2 separate regions of the Homo sapiens genome follow, and region 2 is linked to region 1. The links come from fine-mapping of genetic effects on gene expression. A gene starts in region 1. The other region holds a variant in brackets. All regions are shown on one strand. Distances are from middle to middle.

What was found. PIP is the estimated chance that this variant, and not a neighbour inherited with it, causes the effect. A credible set is the group of variants that fine-mapping cannot tell apart.
Region 2: its variant is the best candidate, but not a certain one, in a credible set for the expression of TNFRSF21 in monocytes after R848 (Quach 2016, PIP 0.78).

What each region holds. Positions count from the first base shown.
Region 1 is chr6:47,307,716-47,313,096 of GRCh38, reverse strand. It overlaps TNFRSF21 (TNF receptor superfamily member 21), which reads left to right and starts at 3,192. Exons shown (of 6, transcript NM_014452.5): 1 at 3,192-3,681. The coding sequence starts at 3,586. RefSeq lists enhancers at 2,930-3,224, 3,176-3,355, 3,519-4,241 and a silencer at 3,496-3,725.
Region 2 is chr6:47,135,709-47,141,089 of GRCh38, reverse strand. It overlaps LOC105375081 (a long non-coding RNA gene), which reads left to right and starts at 2,394. Exons shown (of 5, transcript XR_926864.3): 1 at 2,394-2,576; 2 at 4,701-4,763. The variant T/C (reference allele first, on the strand shown) is at 2,455.

The DNA.
Region 1 (5,381 bases):
ACGCCCAAGCTGGAAGGTTGCAGGTTTACAGGAATGAGGGCAAGGAACACCTGGCCCACCCAGGGCGGAAAACCACTTAAAGGCATTCTTAAGCCACCAACAATAGCTTGAGCGGTCTGTGCCTTAAGGACATGCTCCTGCTGCAGTTAACTAGCCCATCCTATTCCTTTAATTCAGCCCACCCTTCGTTTCCCATAAGGGATGCTTTTAGTTAATCGAATATCTATAGAAACAATGCTAATGACTGGTTTGCTGTTAATAAATATGTGGGTAAATCCCTGTTCGGGGCTCTCAGCTCTGAAAGCTGTGAGACCCCTGATTTCCCACTTCACACCTCTATATTTCTGTGTGTGTGTCTTTAATTCCTCTAGCGCCACTGGGTTAGGGTCTCCCCAACGGAGCTGGCATTTTCCTGCCAACTTTCTGTCATTCCCTCATAGATCGGCTCAGGATGTTTGTCATGCAGCAGTCATTTCTCAAAATGTGGACAATTGTTATTTTCATTATAAAGAACATGAAATTTTACTAGACCTTCTGAAAGTGTGCAGGATAAGTTAAAAAAATAATTAAGACAAGATGGTAAATCTGGTGATTTCTTTTTTTTTTTTTTTTTTTTTTTTTGAGACGGAGTCTCGCTCTGTCGCCCAGGTCGGACTGCGGACTGCAGTGGCGCAATCTCTGGTGATTTCTTCAGTATCCAGATGTATATATCAGATTTTTAACAAGAAAGATAAAATAGAAAAAAATGAAAGGTTAGGAAAGCATTAATTGGAATGTACTAAGGACGAGGAAAGAATTAGCAATGATTTTTGAGGTTGGAAAACTAGAAAAATTGTACAACATTGGCAGAAAGAGAGAAAGTCCAAAGGTAGGATGGAGGGTGGAGATAGAGTAATTTTTATGGCAAAGATGACATTGGATTAACTCATTTAGGCCTTCCTTTAAAATTTAGCTATAATTATGATTTATCAACACATATCTCCTCTTTCCTTGGAACTTTGGGAGAAACTTCCTTATGTATCATTGAATTTTTATCCTTTCCCAGAAAACAGACATGTCTAAGTTACCACATTGAAAATGTGGCAATGAATTATTTAATGGTTGCAGCATTGTTACTTCAAAATGGAAGGCATGTATACATTTCAATTCAAAGTAATAAAATTTCACACTGCATCTAGATTCAAATTATCTATAATCTATCACTCTATAGAGGGACATGTATTTAAATGTTAGTAGTAAACAGAATTGAGTAAATTTTTTCATCTCTCAAAATGTATATTAAATTTCAACTTGATATGATCAATGGAACACCAGGAATTCATGAAGTTTCAAAGTGGTCCAAGCACAAATAAACAATTTTCTTTTAGTTTTAGGAAGACAAATAGTTGAGAAGAACTTCTTATACCTGCATAGTAACCCAGACACTAAACTCTAAAGTTGCCCAACTCTTTAGAGCAAATCAATCATATATTACCACGAAAAATGTGAGTTTGGATGCAAGGAGTAAAATGGACTAAATAAAAACGTATTTGAAGCTCCTCCTCCTCTTTAATACCTATGTAACTTCTTAAAAAAAAACAACCCAACCTTATAATAGTATTGGCCAGTCATTTGAATTTTTGAAGAAAAAATTGATACAGTTATGCATGAAAACACAGCATCTATCCCTCACTCTTTCAACTTCTGAAAATAGCTAGAGAGTGGCAAGTCCAACCATCATCCTTTCCCCAAAACTCCATAATTAATGGTAATATTTTCTAGAACTCCTTTGAATTTCACTAGAGGTTATATATTGTAGCTTTTTTCCCACTCTAACATTTATAGACAATACTGACAAATGTTTGAAATAATAGATTGGAATTAACCCTCATATTAATTTTAGCTTCTACCAAAGTGTGCATAGAGCAAAGAATCAAAGGACAACATGTTAACTAATAAAGCAAATAATTGGTACCTATGACTTAGCAAGTTACCTTTATTAGCACTGGGTGTTGGATCTTGAAACTGATAGTTTAAAAAGTGTGATTCTTTTGAAATGGGACCAAAGGAGCCTAGGATAAGCCCAGCACCATAGGGCTCCCAATTGAGGGGTGTGGACTGGATGGCTGAAGAGGTAATATCAATACAGTGTGCCATGTGCTGTCAGTACCTAGATGATGGATAACACGATACCAGAAATGGTGGCCACAGTCAGGAGACTCGGCCTTCCCCCAGGTGAAACAAAGAAAAGGATAACAGCTGCTCTCTTACATTCAGAAGTGTGTGAGATACCAACATCCACGAGAATATTCCAGTTCTCCTTCTGAAGCAGAATACTACCTATTCTACCACCCACATCCTGACAAGGCCTTTGGAAATCAACTCAAAAATTTTTAGCATTATTTTTTGGGGGAAGGGTGATTAAAAAAAATCTCAGGGATAATCCGATTCAAAACTCTTGATTTTTAAATTAGGAAAATGCATCTTTTGATACATTTCAAGGAGTTCAAAAGTCCCTCCAAGACCATCCATGGACCCAACACCAATGACTCTGGGTTTTAAATCCTTTTAGTTTGGATTTCCTTAATTGCATTCATAAGCCCATATTAAAATTAAAATATAAAAAATTAAAATCTTTGCCCCATATTAAAATCACCCTGAAAACTTAAAAAACAAACAAACAACAACAACAACAAACCTCAATGCCCAGACCAGATCCTGTCCTGTTCCAATTAAATCAGAGTCTCTAGAGGTGGGACCCAAGAATCAATATATATGTTTTGAACTCTCCAGGTGATTCCACAGGGCAGCAAAGTTTGAGAAGCAACACACAGGTCTCCTTTTTCGTCACGCAGTTGATCTAAGTGCTCTGTGGTCTATTCACCATCGCTCTCTGATTTAATCATCGTGTCCGAAACAATGGAAAGGCGTATGTAGCTGAAATAATTTAGTTGGAATTATCTCGGAAAAAATAAGTAAAGTTAGATCAGGAGTGAGATGCTTTCTCAGCGCTTTCCCTGGGTCAACAGGCGCGTGCAATTTCCTCAGCGAACGCCAAGGGGCACCCTCTCCCTCCCCGCTCTACCTGGAACGCCTTCGCCTTTCCAACCGCACAAAGAGCCCGGCCTCCTCCCGGGTGACATCACAAAGGGCCGGTCCCCCGCCCCTTCGGCGCCACCACGTGTGTCCCTGCGCCCGGTGGCCACCGACTCAGTCCCTCGCCGACCAGTCTGGGCAGCGGAGGAGGGTGGTTGGCAGTGGCTGGAAGCTTCGCTATGGGAAGTCGTTCCTTTGCTCTCTCGCGCCCAGTCCTCCTCCCTGGTTCTCCTCAGCCGCTGTCGGAGGAGAGCACCCGGAGACGCGGGCTGCAGTCGCGGCGGCTTCTCCCCGCCTGGGCGGCCGCGCCGCTGGGCAGGTGCTGAGCGCCCCTAGAGCCTCCCTTGCCGCCTCCCTCCTCTGCCCGGCCGCAGCAGTGCACATGGGGTGTTGGAGGTAGATGGGCTCCCGGCCCGGGAGGCGGCGGTGGATGCGGCGCTGGGCAGAAGCAGCCGCCGATTCCAGCTGCCCCGCGCGCCCCGGGCGCCCCTGCGAGTCCCCGGTTCAGCCATGGGGACCTCTCCGAGCAGCAGCACCGCCCTCGCCTCCTGCAGCCGCATCGCCCGCCGAGCCACAGCCACGATGATCGCGGGCTCCCTTCTCCTGGTGAGCGCTTGCGTGGACCGGGGGTGGCGGCGGCGCCGGAGCAGAAGGAACCGCTCTCCGGGAGCCGGGCGGGTCACCGGGCCGGGGCTTAGGGAGGCGCGGGGCCCGGCCGACTGGGTTACGGGCACTGAGGGGTTTCCAAGGGAAGGCAACACACCAGAGGGCCTCGACTAGGTTATTTGGGGGAATCTCAGGGCTCAGCCGGGGCTGGGGAATGAAGACGAATTGTTTTCCTTGCAGTCTGGCTTTGCTGGAGGAGACGCTAGAGGTAGCCGCCCAGCTTCTGCGCATTTGAGGGCTTTTCCCCCTACTCGGCCTACCTCGCGCTCCCCACGCCCGCAGCCACAGCCCCCCACCCATCGGCCACTGCCCCTCTGCGTGGTGTGGGGCCTCGCCGCGGTGTGGGGCTCCCACGGCCGGCCGAGGCCGGCGCTTTGTTGCAGCTGCAATGTCATGTCGGGATGCTACCGCAGTGGAAGACAGTGGTACCGGTGCGCGCCGGACACCGGAGACCTCCGGGTGCTGTCGCGCGGTGCATTCCCGAGCAGGGCGCAAGCCGCCCCCTCCTCAATCCCTTTACCCTCTCTCTTCCCTCTTGGCTCGGGTGGGGTCTCAGGTTCTGTATGCCGAAATATCACCCTTAGACCCACTCTCCGGCGCCTCCAAAGCGCCGGCTTCCAGCCAGCCAGCGCGCCGGCACTGGAATGGGGGGAGGGGGAAGGAGATGTGTGTGAAGGAAGATGAATTTTCTACAGTCTTTCCGATCCCTCGTTTACCTGTGGCTAGGCAGGTGACCCTGCAGGGTGGTGCAGTCTCCCTCATCGTCTAAGCTGCATCCACATCTCGGGTCAATCATCTTGACCAAAAACTTACCCTCAACTTCCCCCAAATTCCCTCCCTTTATTTCCAAATATTGGGGTGAAGGGGCAAGTTAGGTGGAAGAAAATTTGAGATCAAACCCTTGAGCTTCCCTTGCCTATCTTTTATCACTGCAGGAGGGATGGAAATTCTTAGCTAAAAACCGAACAAAAAAACCCCCAAGAAACAAGAGCTTGTTTTCACGACAGGGCTGTGTAAGGGAAAAGCAGGCTTGCTGTCTCCTTCCCCAAAAGGGCTTAACGCCTGGCCAGCCAAGAACTGCTTAGATCTCAGGACATTGCAGTTGCTATGGCCTGGGAATTCATCCTACAGACACTCTGGTTCCTTGTGTGTGTGTTTTAAGAGGAAGAGAGAGACTAAATAAAAGTTTGTTACTGTTAGCATTTATAATGAGGCAAGTCCCAGTCTCCCTTCAGAAACTCTTTTCTGCCCACTTATTAATGGCATGGCCAAGGTTTATATCTTTGAAACAAGTGAAACAAGTGTGGTGGATGGTAAGCAGTAGTCGGGGAGTCTCTTGGGACAATGAACCTGGATTGACAGTCTTGGTGTGGAGAGAAACACATCTAGGTCCATGGGAACACTGATCCTAGTTCAGTGGAGTGAGAACTATCATCATTTCCTTTTTCACAGCTTTAGATCCACTACTATCCACTACTATGTTTCAGGTGCTTCTAACACATCTGATTATTATATGCCTCACAGAGTCCATTCCCAGATTAAATCTTAAGTCATTGTGCAATACTCCATTTATTTTACCTTTTAGCATGAGGTAGGTAATTAAACAAAGGTCTTGATGTAATCAAATGGTAGGTTGCCTT
Region 2 (5,381 bases), 170 kb after region 1:
AAAAACCCAGGAGATTCACAACAGCCAATAGAAAAGGAGACCTGAGCCGGCATGATTAGGAAGTCCCTTCTGCTTTAACCCATACAGGGAAATGACAAATCTGCTTCTTGTTCCTTGTCTCCACTTTCTTGAGGCTTTTCTGCCTATAAGGCCCAGCCTCTCTGCTCAGCAGAGTGTCTTTCTATTTCATTGCTGGGAGGTTTCCCACTGCATGGATAACTAATAAAAGTCAATTCAATCTTCAAAACTCAATGTGTTGAAATTTTGTTCTTTGACAGTATTGACAGATATCTTTTCCAGAGCAATTGAATCGTGATGGTAGTGGTAATATAGGGAGGGAAAAAACAGGTGCCAAAAACCTCAGGGATGTAGAAACTAGTTCTTAATTTACAAATCTTGTATGTAAGACATAAAAGCTAACTGCAAAAAAACAAACAAAAACCCACAAAGCTGAATACATATAAGGTAGTACCTAGGTAAAATTTTGACTTTTACTGTGAAATTTTCTTCTTCTATCACCTTCTTCCTTCTACATGGCCTTTAGGATGAAGACAAGAATGCAGAGTTGGTGGAGAATCCTAACTGTATGGAGGAGTTGCCTCTTAAAAGCATCAGCATTTTTGAGTAATAATGATAAAAAATGAGGGAAAATTGTTGTAAGGCTTGGAGGAAGAGTTACTGTAATTCACCTCTGAGAAATCACCAAAGCTGATTGCAATTATTAGAATATTGGGAGCAAGGAAAGGGGTTTGACACCAGCTGTGCAAAACTTATTTTACAAACAAAATTCCTACTTGGAAAGTGCTAACTTTAACAAGGGATTTAATAATGCCCTCCATTCAGGGTGCATATAAAATATTTGTTTTCTATATTATTCCTAATAGTGGTTTTTCTTGAAGGACAGATCCTAGGAGATGTTATATCCCCAAATATTCAGAGTAGACTTTTATACTTCCACTATTTCCTTTTCCCAAAGACCGTTTATAGAAGCAATTTATGGGGATGGATGCAGTGGCTCACTCCTGTAATCCCAGCACTTTGGGAGACTGAGGCGGATCACTTGAGCCCAGGAGTTTGAGACCAGCATAGGCAACATAGCAAGACCTTGTCCCTATTAAAAAAGAAAAAGAAGTGATTTATGGATCAACCTAACCAAAAAAGTATGGTGAATGTTCTTTCTTTTTCAAGTTTATTGAGTGTGATGGGGAGCAGGATGAAAAGATCTGGAGGTCAGAGGAAGGGACTGAACTTGTGTGAAGGTCCCACTATGTGTCAGACCCATTGCTGTGTAACTTATCCTTTGCTATCCTTTGAGATAAGGGTTTTTATCCCAGTTTTACAAATGAGGACACCAAGGCGCTACACTGGGCCCAACACAAGATAGCTGTTTATCTGACTCCAAGATTGTACGCTGTCTTTCTGTTAGACAAAATTGCATTGCTAAAAGTATTGCTGTTGGTCTGTTCAAGTCTGGTTCCCATCTTTGAATTCCCCCTAGGAGCTCTCTTTCTTATTCCATGGGTTGTTTTCCTGTGTTGTGTGTCCTCATCCCCCAGCTAGCCTTTTCCTGAGCCCCTCCTTGGCCCCACGCCCGCCTTCCCTTTTTGCATTGTCTGTGCTGTTAGCAGTAATGTACTTAAGCCCCTCTCTTGGGATAGCTGTGAACCTCCTTGAAGGTCTTCTCTCCCCTTTGACTTCTGGCACTTAGAACCCCTTCTGCTTTTCATTTGGGATTTATATCCTGCCTTCTGTTGAGTGTTTCCTTCCATACAGTTCAGGTTTTATTGAGATCTCTAAGGAGATGTAAGACCCTGAGGACAGTGATGGTGCCTTAAGGCTCTTTGAAAGTCTCTACTTCAAGTATAAGACCTTGCAGAGTGGGTGCTTGTAAACACTTGTTAAATACATGACTACAACCCTTTACAAGTTTGTCCCATGTTCTTCTCTCCACCATTGAAATGAAAATAATGGGCCAGGGGCAGTGGGTCACACCTGTAATCCCAGCACTTTGGGAGGCCAAAGTGGGTGGATCACCTGAGGTCAGGAGTTCGAGACTAGCCTGGCCAACATGATGAAACCCCATCTCTATTAAAAATACAAAAATTAGCCAGGCATGGTGGCATGCCCCTGTGATCCCAGCTACTAGGAAGGCTGAGGTGGGAGAATTGCTTTAACCTAGGAGGTGGAGGCTGCTGTGAGCTGAGATCGTGCCACTGCACACCAGCCTGGGAGACAGAGCAAGACCCCATCTCAAAAGTAAATAAATAAATAATGAATTAATTAATTAAATAAAATGGATTATAAAAAATACTTCTTTTTTTCAGAATTCCTGCAAAAGAGATAACTTCTGGTAAATAAAAATTTTCCAAGACATGAATGAGTCATCAAGGTTTAATTTATTTCAACATTCATTCCTAAAAACAGTTTATTTGCTTTTCCGCAGGAAAATTTGCA[T/C]TCTCCCTGTTGTGGAAATAGGTGGGGATTTCGGGGCAGGCTGAAGAGGGAGCTATTTTTTTCAGAGATCTGCGCATTCCCCCTGTGAGGGAGGCTGACAAGGACCATGGAACTCAACCATTGTACGCAGTAAGACCACCACGCAAATGCAGCCACACTTTCTATGCTGCTCTTCCCCTTCGCTCTCTTCCTTGAGACTTCTCAGTACCACTCTGTTCTTCCTACCTACACCCCTTACTTCTCTCTATTTCTGCAAAGTGAGGTCTTATGGAGCTGGCCTGGTTTCAGCATCCTTGCTACCCCTTTCTAGAATGTTCCCAGAAGAGGAGAGTCACAACCAATCTTGCCTTTTCTTCTGCATGTCTCCAGTGACGTCTGGCTGGGCTCAGTCACTTCCTGGGTATTTTCCCACAACAGAAATCCTCGCGGTAACTCTGTAAAACCCAGCTCAGCTCCTATAACCGAGATGATACACTTTTTAAATTACGTTCTCATCATTTCCAATAAATTTCTTTCTAAAATACCACTTTGAAGACACGTAGCTTCCTATCATTATAATTTTTTTTTCATCTATTTGGTTCCAGGAATTGAATTTACTCACAGGCATCATTGCCCAACTTCATGTCTGAAGGATTTAAGACAAAGCTTTTCAATCTGAAATGACAGGCTGGAAAACCAAGTGCCAGTTTTCCACGCAAAAAATCAGAGATCCATGCAACAGCTTCTTTGGCTCTGGCAGAATGGGAAAATTAGTGATTGAACACTTCTCTGGGCTCAGCCCCCTCGCCCACCAATTTGTAAATTAGGCTGAGTTATTTGCATTTTTACAGTCTCAAACCGTTTGTAGAAACATGCCATTTTGCCTTTTTAAACCCAAATAATAACGTTGCAAGAATTTGGCAGTTAAATGACATCTAGCTCTCTGATTAAAGAGAGGAAAGGAAAGCCATTAGTCTCATATCCATCCTTAGTGGGGAAATACATCTTTAAGAAATTATGGCACAGAATAGTTCCATTTACAATCATTCAAGTTTTTTTTTTTCTGAGAAGTCGTGCTTGATATCAATTATCCATTTTTCCCTTCTCTTTGTGCTGTCCTCAGAATTCTTCCTGAGAAGTTAACTTTAATCTTCTGCTTTGTTTCAAAGCCTGTATTAGATTAACCTCTCTTTTTCTTTTTATTTGGGAATGACTAATTAGCAAGCAGAAATTAAATTTAAAAATTTAACTTCTCTGCACAGTAGATTTCTCAAGATCCTCAGACCCTGTAGGCAGTATGAATGGATTCTCCTGTAAAGCCTTTATTTCATGTTGTGTTGTGGTTTCCAGGAAGACAAAATGCACTTTGGACCACATCAACTTGAATAACATACTGGGTGCTCTAAATTGACTCTTCTGTCCCTTCAGGATGAGATTTCAGTGATTTTAAAGTCCAGAGTATTGGAAAGAGAAGAAGAAATTTTCATAGCCTGGTGGACAAAGGAATTTGATAGAAAATACTGTAGATAATTGTAGAATTCAGGACTAGAAAGCCCAGATATGTACAGGAACTTCTTTCTTTTAAAGATTAAGACAATGAGATGCAAACCTAATTATAGTCGAAGCCCGAAGGTTTATACAGGTCTGGTTCCATTTCCCTATTAGTACTTTCTCGAATGCACTATCCTCTGGATACAGGCACAGGAATGTATGATCCAGTTATATCAGCCTGGTCTAAATTTCAATTAATTGCGCCTTCTTACCAACTGTCACCCCAAGTATCCCTCAATACCACAGTTCATTCCTTTCTGATTTCCATTTTCTTCTTTTATCTTCCTTTCCCTCCCATCTTTTATTTTATTTTGCTCTGATTGTTTTCACTTAGTAAAAGCACCACCGTTTGTTGCTTCCTGGGGAATGGGCACTTCTCTCAATTGTGGCTCCCAGCCTCTGGTCTTTTCTGTCTCTTCTCAGGATCTACCCACATCTTTATCTCAAGCTTTCATTTCTCTCAGTCACTAGTCCAAAAGAACAAGGCTCCCTAACGCTTGCTACCAACAGGTGCCAGTAAAAGATGCCTCCCTTTGTTCTATATGAATTTAGATAAAATGTTTGTTTTACATATGAATTGGTATCAAAAAGCAAGTTGGTTCTGTCTAAGAAAGCAAAGGCCTGAATAAGAGCAAGGTAATAGATTTAAGGATGGAGATGATCATGATGATGCCATTGATAATTACAATACCTTGCATTTCTATTGTTCTTTCCAGCATGCAAAGCTCTTTCAATTTCATCATCTCATCCCACCATCACAACGCTGGGAGATCAGTTAGGTTCGTATTAGTTTTGCCATTTTATATGAAAGCCAAGTCTTAGGTAAGTAAACTGATGTGTCTCAGGACCTCACTCCAGGAAAGATAAAATCAGGTTGAAACCCATGTTTTAGGACTCTGAGCCCCAGAATGTTCTGCTTCTCTGGAATACAGTCTGATGAGATTGTGAATCAAAAAGATACCTCACTGCCCGGTAGTATAGGTAATTATATTATCACAAAGGTTTTGGGTAAACATAATGGAGAAAACAATGTTGACAGGCCGATAAAACGGGAATAGCTCACTAAAGGAGATTGTGTAATCTTTCCTTCATGGAGGATTTATCTGAAACAACAGGTTTCTAGTATTCCCTACAGCATTCCAAACCCTGTTTCCAGAAGGCAATTTGCCAATAGGTATCAAAAACATTAAAGGCATGACTAATGGTAACCTCAGACAAATGACTCAGCATCTCCAAAGTCAGTTTCCTCATCTGTAAATAGTAGGGTTTGGGGGAGGATTAAATAATGTTTTGTAAAGTACCTGGCACAGAGGGTGTATTTGATAAATATTGTCAATGTTTTAAGAGTAATGATGACAATATTTTCACTTGTAAGAGGAAATAAGCACAAAGATTTT